2 linked regions of the Homo sapiens genome follow. The protein of the gene in region 1 purifies or fractionates together with the protein of each later gene. This does not show direct contact. Each region holds a gene or a part of one and is shown on either strand. Other genes may lie near its edges.

The links.
Region 2: the proteins of ARHGEF17 (region 1) and TMOD2 purify together in Homo sapiens (affinity purification with mass spectrometry; one large-scale study listed by BioGRID and IntAct). This does not show direct contact.

What each region holds. Positions count from the first base shown.
Region 1 is NC_000011.10:73,356,648-73,360,462, reverse strand, and holds part of ARHGEF17 (rho guanine nucleotide exchange factor 17), read right to left. Parts: intron 3,755-3,815; coding exon 3,704-3,754; intron 3,439-3,703; coding exon 3,329-3,438; intron 3,222-3,328; coding exon 3,136-3,221; intron 630-3,135; coding exon 511-629; intron 144-510; coding exon 1-143. UniProt on the Homo sapiens protein: Acts as a guanine nucleotide exchange factor (GEF) for RhoA GTPases.
Region 2 is NC_000015.10:51,754,554-51,758,368, reverse strand, and holds part of TMOD2 (tropomodulin-2), read right to left. Parts: intron 1-3,815. UniProt on the Homo sapiens protein: Blocks the elongation and depolymerization of the actin filaments at the pointed end. The Tmod/TM complex contributes to the formation of the short actin protofilament, which in turn defines the geometry of the membrane skeleton.

The sequences.
Region 1 (3,815 bases):
ATGTAGGAGTCGGTGCCCTCGGGCCGAGTGGCGCACAGCTCCAGCTTGGTTGGCGGGAAGGAAAGCGCGTAGCACAGCGCCTGCTTCTCCGACAGGTCCCGGTGCATGGCAGCTGAGAGGTCCCGCAGTGCATCGTCCAGGCTCTGTGGGGAAGAGGGCCCAGGCCTCAGGCCCCAGCATCTCACCAGAGCCTGCACCTGCCCTTAATGTGTGGGGACCTGCCTCTCTCCTTAGACAGCAAGTGAGACTGTCTCCTCCCTCAGACCTGGATTCCTTTGATATATGGGGGATGGGGCCTCTGTCACCCTCTGATGGGGATGCAGCTATGTCTCCACCCTCAGACCTGGAACATGTTACTTCCCCCATACGCAGGGAGGCTGCGATTTTTGCCTTCAGATGAGGGAAAGGGATGTCTCTTCCCTCAGGCAAATGTCAGGGCTGTCTATCTCTCAGACAGGGTCAGAAGCCTCCCACCCTCTGGCTCCCCAGTGTCAGGCAGAGGGCACAGACCTGGTGGGGGAAACCAAGGCTCTCAGAGAGCTTGCTCATTTGGCCCAGGGTGGTGAGGTCCTCATCAAGGCGGCTGATGGCCTTCTGGATGTTCTCCCGATTGGTGGCTTGGGATGCCCCTAGAGGGAGAGAGGAAGGCCGTGGACTGATACAGAGACAGACAAGGTCAGGCTGGGACAGACTCTCCTTCCCTCACTGCATAGCCTGCAGCTGGGCCGGGGAGAGACCTGACAAACCGAAAGCATAGAAACCCCAAGCTCTTGGGAAAAAAGTTAACAGGCAGCTCCCTGAGGAACCCCAGCCCTGTGAGCTGGGGACTAGGCCTGATTCAGAGCCATGTGGCGCAGGATGTCAGGCCCACGGAGAATTCCCAGGAGAGCATGGAGTATGAAATGGTGGCTGGCTCTGCGATACACAGGCCCTGGCTGACACGGAACTGCTGCGGCGTTGCAGCCTCCCGTGGGCGTGCTGACAGAGCAGGCAGAGCCCCAGGCAGTCAAATGTGCTGACCAAGAGACTCATCGCCCCACAAAGGAGGGGGCAGTGCATGGTGCCCTGGATTTCTATGGTCCTATCCCATACCTGAACACTGCCAAGCAGCTGGTCCTGCAGACGGCCTGCCGCCCTCAACCCAAGGCTTGGGACGCACATTCTGGACCAGTGGTCCATACATGGAGCTGTCCCTCCACCCTTGGGCCAGGACACATGTGTCTTGAAATCAAGGGAAAAGAAGTGTCTTTTTGCTTTTTCCTAAATGAGTTTCTTTTCCTGTTTTTCTCCAATCTAGTTTATAGAATGTGTTATTGGTGTATATAAATTTAATATTTGGGCCACAGGTTGCAGAATGGTAAGGCAGCCCTGGACGGGTCATGACAGCACTAGAGACATGGAACCTGAGACTGGCAAGTCCTGTCTGAAGTGGCCCTGTGACCAAGAACCCCGTGGGGGTGAGAGGCAGCCTGCTGAGGAGGGGAGGGCACGCTTTGTAACTGTAAGATGGAGTCACGCTGGACAGGGAGGCTGTCTCACTGTGTCTACGGGAAGAAGAGTGTGTGCCCGGTGGATGGCAGTGGAGTTTCCTGCCAGGCCGAGGCTGGGAACAGCTCTGCTGTTGCCTGAATGTTTGTGTCCACTCAACACTCACAGGTTGAAATCGAATCCTGAGTGTGTTGGTATTAAGAGGCGGACCTGGCTGACGTGTTGGCTCACGCCTGTAATCCCAGCATTTTGGGAGGCCGAGGTGGGCAGATCACAAGGTCAGGAGATCAAGACCATCCTGGCTAACATGGTGAAACCCCATCTCTACTAAAATACAAAAAAAAAAAAAATTAACCGGGCGTAGTGGTGCGCACCTGTAGTCCCAGCTACTTGGGAGGCTGAGGCAGGGGAATTGCTTGAACCCGGCAGGCAGAGGTTACAGTGAGCCGAGATCGTGCCACTGCACTCCAGCTTGGCAACAGAGTGAGACTCCGTCTCAAAAAAAAAAAAAAAAAAAAAAAGAGGCGGACCTTTGGGAGGTGACCTGGTCATGAGGGGGAAACCATCGTGAATGAGATTTGTGCCGATAAAGGGGCCTGAAGGAGCTTGTTTGCCAAGTGAGGACACATAGAAGGCACCCTCTGTGAGGCACAGGCCCCTTGCAGTTCTGCTGGCACCCTCATCTTGGCCTTCCCAGCCTCCTCAACGGTGAGCAATACATTCCTCTTGTTTATAAATTGCCCAGTCTGTGGTATTTTTGTTAAAACAGCCTGAAGAGATGAAGCCGATCTACTCCTTTTGACAGAAACTGTCCCATCCCAACCCTCACCACCTGGGCAGCCATGTTTTCTTCCATATGACCCTGCCCCATTCTTGCTCACAGCTGACTGGACCAGGAGTGGGCACCTAACTTAAAGGTGGTCATTCTATTGACTTGGACCAATTAGAGTAATAATCAGCTGGTATTCCTACATAGTGGGCAGGCCTGGGTTCACCAAGGGGCCGAGCAAACCTGTCTGTTACCCTGAGGGCCAAGCTCCAGGTGAGCTCCCCTCCAGCTGAGCCAGGAGCCAGCCTGGGTCTGATCACGGGAGTTATGAGGAAGCAGGGAAAGCTAACAGCAGTGAGAACAGGGCAGACTCAGCAAGAAGGGAAGAAAGACAGACGCCGCAGGAGGAGCGGCTCCTGGAAGCTGCCTCAGCTCCCAACAGTCTCAGCCCTGAACAACATGGATGGCTCCAATCAACCCTTTGCTTGCAGTAACTCAAGCGAGTGTCTGTTCCCTGTGTGTGAAACCGCTGAACCAGACAGTGCAACATCATCTAATATTAGGCGCTCAAATGATTTTGCACAGATGAATCAATGGCTAATTACAGTGATGCTGCTCTGTGTGCACCACCCCCACCCAGCTCCCGCTGCCAGCCTAGGTCCCTGCCCAGTTGGAAGGAAGTGTACATGGACAGACTGTCTGGCTCCATGGGTGCCAAATGGGTCCTTCATGCCAGCCCCCTTGCACTGGATGAGAGAGCGAGGCCCAAAAGTGGAAAAGCAGCTGGACAGGCAGCCAGACTGGCTGGAGCTCAGACCCTCCAGGAGGGCTTCTCAGAGGAAGACCCCAACACCCAGAACCCCTAGCATCAAACCCACCTTTGATGATGTCTGCGTCTTCCAGCGGCAGCTTCCACAGCATCTTGTACTTGCTGGCTGTGTCAATGACACTGGCTGCCGTGTACCTGTGGGGAGCCAATGGGGCGCTCTGGCCAGGGTCGGGGAGTGGGGCTCAGAGAGGGACAAATGCTCCCCCTGTTGGCACCACCCAAACCCCGGCCCAGCCACTCACAGGCTCATGGAGCTGCGCCGCAGGGAGCCTGACTTTCGCTTCAGAGTGGTGCAGACGATGAGGTCCGTGAACAGGAAGAGAGACCGGTCCTTCTTGCCACCGATCGCCTTCTGTGGAGCCCAAGGCAGAATTCAGGCTGGGTGGACACAGTCCAGAAGCCCACCCCCCTGCCCATAGTGCCCAAGGGGACACTGAGACCCAGGGAGAGTGAGGGCTCTTCCCCAGCTTCCCAGAGAGTCAGAGCAGAGTGGGGACTCGACCAGGGCTCCCCTCGGGGTGAAAGAGCAGGGAGACCTGCAGGTAGAGGGTGTGAGCAGAAGAGAGGACAAAGTGAGGAGGTGGGGACAGCCGGACAGATACTGGGACACTTCTTACCACTTCAATGACCATCTCCTGTCTCAGGAACCGCCGCAGAGGGGCCTGGAGCTGTGGGACAGGAGGGACAAGGCATCTCGAAGGCCAGTTATTAATCCCTATCCCCTCCAAA
Region 2 (3,815 bases), on another chromosome or scaffold:
GCTATCTTTTCATGTATGTTGCATGTATGGTTCTCTCTCCAGCTACACTACAAACTCCCAGAAAATAAGTGCCATGTCATACTTCAGTAGGAAAATACATTAATTAATTAAAATAACATGTTCATACTATGTAACAGTAGCTGTTAAAACAAATTGCCTATGTTGTGTCAATGTACCAGGGGATCTCAAAGTCAGAGGAGAAAAAAAAAACTTGCATCCTCCTGGAGCACAACTTTGATCTGAAGATTTGGGGAAAAGCTAGTTATTATTATTATTATTATTATTATTAGAAATAGGGTCTCACTCTGTTCCCCAGGCTGGAGTGCAATGATGTGATCATAGCTCACTGCAGCCTTGTACTCCTGAGCTTAAGTGAACCTCTTGCCTCAGTATTCCCCCCACCTCCTTTGACCCCAGCTGAGACTACAGGTATGTCCCACTATACTCAGCTAGTTTTTAAATTTTTTGTAGAGACAGGGTCTCGCTACATTGCCCAGGCTGTATTTTTAAAAAGCAAATATAGAAATACTGTGGAGAAGAATGCAGTATTCTCATAGCTTTTAAAGTCAAATCAAAGCTTTTCCAGCTCATGGCTGGTCTGCTTTTGCCCCCACCAAGGCTGCCCAAGGGCTCCCATTTGTCTTCCGTCCTGTTAGCAATGCTGCCGTGGGAAGTTAGCAAGCACTGCTACAGCCTCCCCTCCAGTGGTGTGTCTGTCCCATGGCAAGCATTTAACATGCAATATGATGCTAATGTACATGCTGGAGTGAAGCAAATGCCTAACAAGGCTTCCAGGAGTCCTGGTGGGCAAGTACAGGAGCCAGTTAGGAAAACAGAAAATAGGATTAAAGACTTGAGCTGATGGAAGCATGACTTGGGCCCTTAAATAACTCTTCCTATTATCCAAATATACAAGCCTTGGGAAGGAAAATAAGGAGTATGGCTTTTTTTTTTTTTTTTTTTTTTTGAGACGGAGTCTGGCTGTGTCGCCCAGGCTGGAGTGCAGTGGTGCGATCTCCGTTCACTGCAAGCTCTGCCTCCCGGGTTCACGCCATTCTCCTGCCTCAGCCTCCCGAGAAGCTGGGACTACAGGTGCCCGCCACCACGCCCAGCTAATTTTTGTATTTTTAGTAGAGACGGGGTTTCACCATGTTGGCCAGGCTGGTCTCGAGCTCCTGATCACAGGTGATCCACCTGCCTTGGCATCCCAAAGTGCTGGGATTACAGGCGTGAGCCACCACGCTCAGCCCTCTTTATTCTTTTTAATATGTCTTCAATATTTCATAATTTTAAACAATTAGTGCACCGATTTGCACCAGAACCAAATCCACATTTTCTAAAACTAGTAAATTAGAACAGAATCTGCATATCAATGTATCCTCCAACAAAACATGAATTGATCTTAGATATTTAATTCATTTCTGGCTGCTGGGCAAATATAACACAGCAACCGCCTGTTTTGTAATGTAGCTATTTGAAGATGGGCCAATTAAGTTTGTTTTATTTTAAACAACTAAAAGACTTCTATATATTCTGGGAAATACTTGCAGAGGATGAAGGACAGAATGAGGCGGGATAAGGAGAAGTCTCAGTCTGAAATATGGTACGGCAATGGGAAGGAACAAGCTGAAAGAGGAAAGAGGAACAGATCTTACTAGAATGCAGAGCTCGTATTTCCCAATCTTACAACACAAACTTGCCAAAGATTAAATCATACTTGAAAAACAAGGTGCCCACTAGTGACTGCTCCTGTCCAAGGTTAGAAGAACACAGAAGACTAAAAGCACGGGCCTTGGAGTTAACCAACCCAAGGTCTGATGGTGCAGATATGTGTGCAGTGACAACCTCTCCAAACTTCTGGTCCTTCCTCAGTAAAACATGCAAAGAACAGTACTTATCTCAGAAGGCTGAGGTGACACTTAAGGTGACCATGTACATATTAGGCGCAGTGTCTAGCAAGCGCAAGCCCTCAGTCAAAGCTATTTCTCTTTCGTCCTTGGTTGTGGAATAATCTCGTGTTTTAGGTGTTCTTTCCCTCTGTTTTCCCCATCAAGATCTGCTGAATATAAAGAGGCAAAACCTGTAAGAGCTGCGGGTCAGCATTGCCAGGTGTAGAAAGCCACCATAGTGTAAGCTAGCCAAGCTATGAGATAGATTTCCACCTGGGTAGGAAGCAGTCAAAAAGCCAAAAAGTCTTGCTGTCTGCCCAGCCTGCCTCTTGGTTTCTAATTCTCATGGCGGGTCCTATTTCCCGCTGTTGTCTTGTCCCTGTGTTTGGCCTTCTTTTCTGTTTTTAGAGGAGTTCCTCTTGCTTGACCTCTATTTATCTCCTTGCCTTCCACTTGGAGATCTGCGCCTTTCTGGGTTTTAACTGCCTGTTGCTTTTAACCATGTCCTTCCTCTTGCCTTTGGGAACTTATGGGCTTCTTCTAACTTCCTGATTGGCACCGGGTTTCCTGCTTTTTGTCCTTTGATTCATGTGCCCTCCTTTCTTCTGCTTGCTTATGTGGTCTTTGACTCACTCATCTTGTCTCTTTCTTTGGCATTTTATACCAGCTAGGTTTTGATCCAGGTTTTGTAATGACTTATGGATGCTGTATGCACCCTGACTTGTGAGTGCTTACCTAGATGATGTGCAAAACATTTAGCAACTGGTATAGAAGGGACACTGCCCAGTCAGAATGGTTGTTTATCAACAATGAGGACAGTTGTCCCCATGCACACCGCTTGAATAGCAGCCCAGCTCACTGGACTCCACACTCCTCTAACCACTCTGATGAGGGACCTCCTGGTCCTTTCTTAGGGCTTGTGCCCCAGCTTGTCTCCTTTCTCCTCATGTCCAGGCTTGGCATGGCTGGCCTTGTGCCCTATTTTGTGAGCTCCTGCCACTCACAGTCCTGGAGTTGACTTTCTCATCCCCACCCTACCTAGCTCTCACCAGGGGAACCTAGGAATAGTGATGACACATGTGAAAGAGGTAATTAGTGGGGCAGCCTTGATGCCAAAACAGGATGGCAAATCATAAAAGCAGAAATAGCAAGAAATCACAGCTTTAAGGAAGGTTGTGCTGAAACATGGGACCAAGGCCAAGGAACTCAAAATGGCTTTGGGAGGAAAGGTGGCTATTTCAGTCCATGGAAGAGCCATAGCAGAAGAGCGCATCTCATTTTACACAACCACGAAGCCTTAAAGTTACGTAGAATTGACTTTTTGGTGTGCTGAAAATAAAAATGGTTCATAGTATACAACAAAGGACTAAGCAGGAGAATTTATAGGAAGAAAGTTAGGAAATTTAGGATGAAAAAGTAGACTGGGGTCAAACTGTTATGATCCATTAAAACCAGAAACTGAAATTTGAATTCTAATCTGTAAGTAATGTGAAGCACAAATACTTACAACTTACACATTTAATCATATGTCCTGACCTTTCACTCAAAAATGCATTAAAGGCAGTTTCTCAAAGGTGGTTCCATGTAACGATAGCCCCTCAAGATATTTTTCATTTTTTATTTTTGCACACAGTTTGGGAAACATTACATATCACATCCTATGGACATTCCCACCCCATTTACATCCCCATATACAATGATCATTAACCCATGAAAGGCTCTGAAAAGTCAAGAATAAACCAACTTGTCCAGCTTTGTTTAGTGTTTTCCACATCTGGCTAGGCAATTTCTTTTTCTTGTAACCCATTAACATTCTATGTATTTTGGGGAATACTGACTGAGAGATTCACAAGTACACACAGACATTCATGCAAGTAAATATGTATACTTTAAATTAGTATTTTCATGTATACATAAACACATATA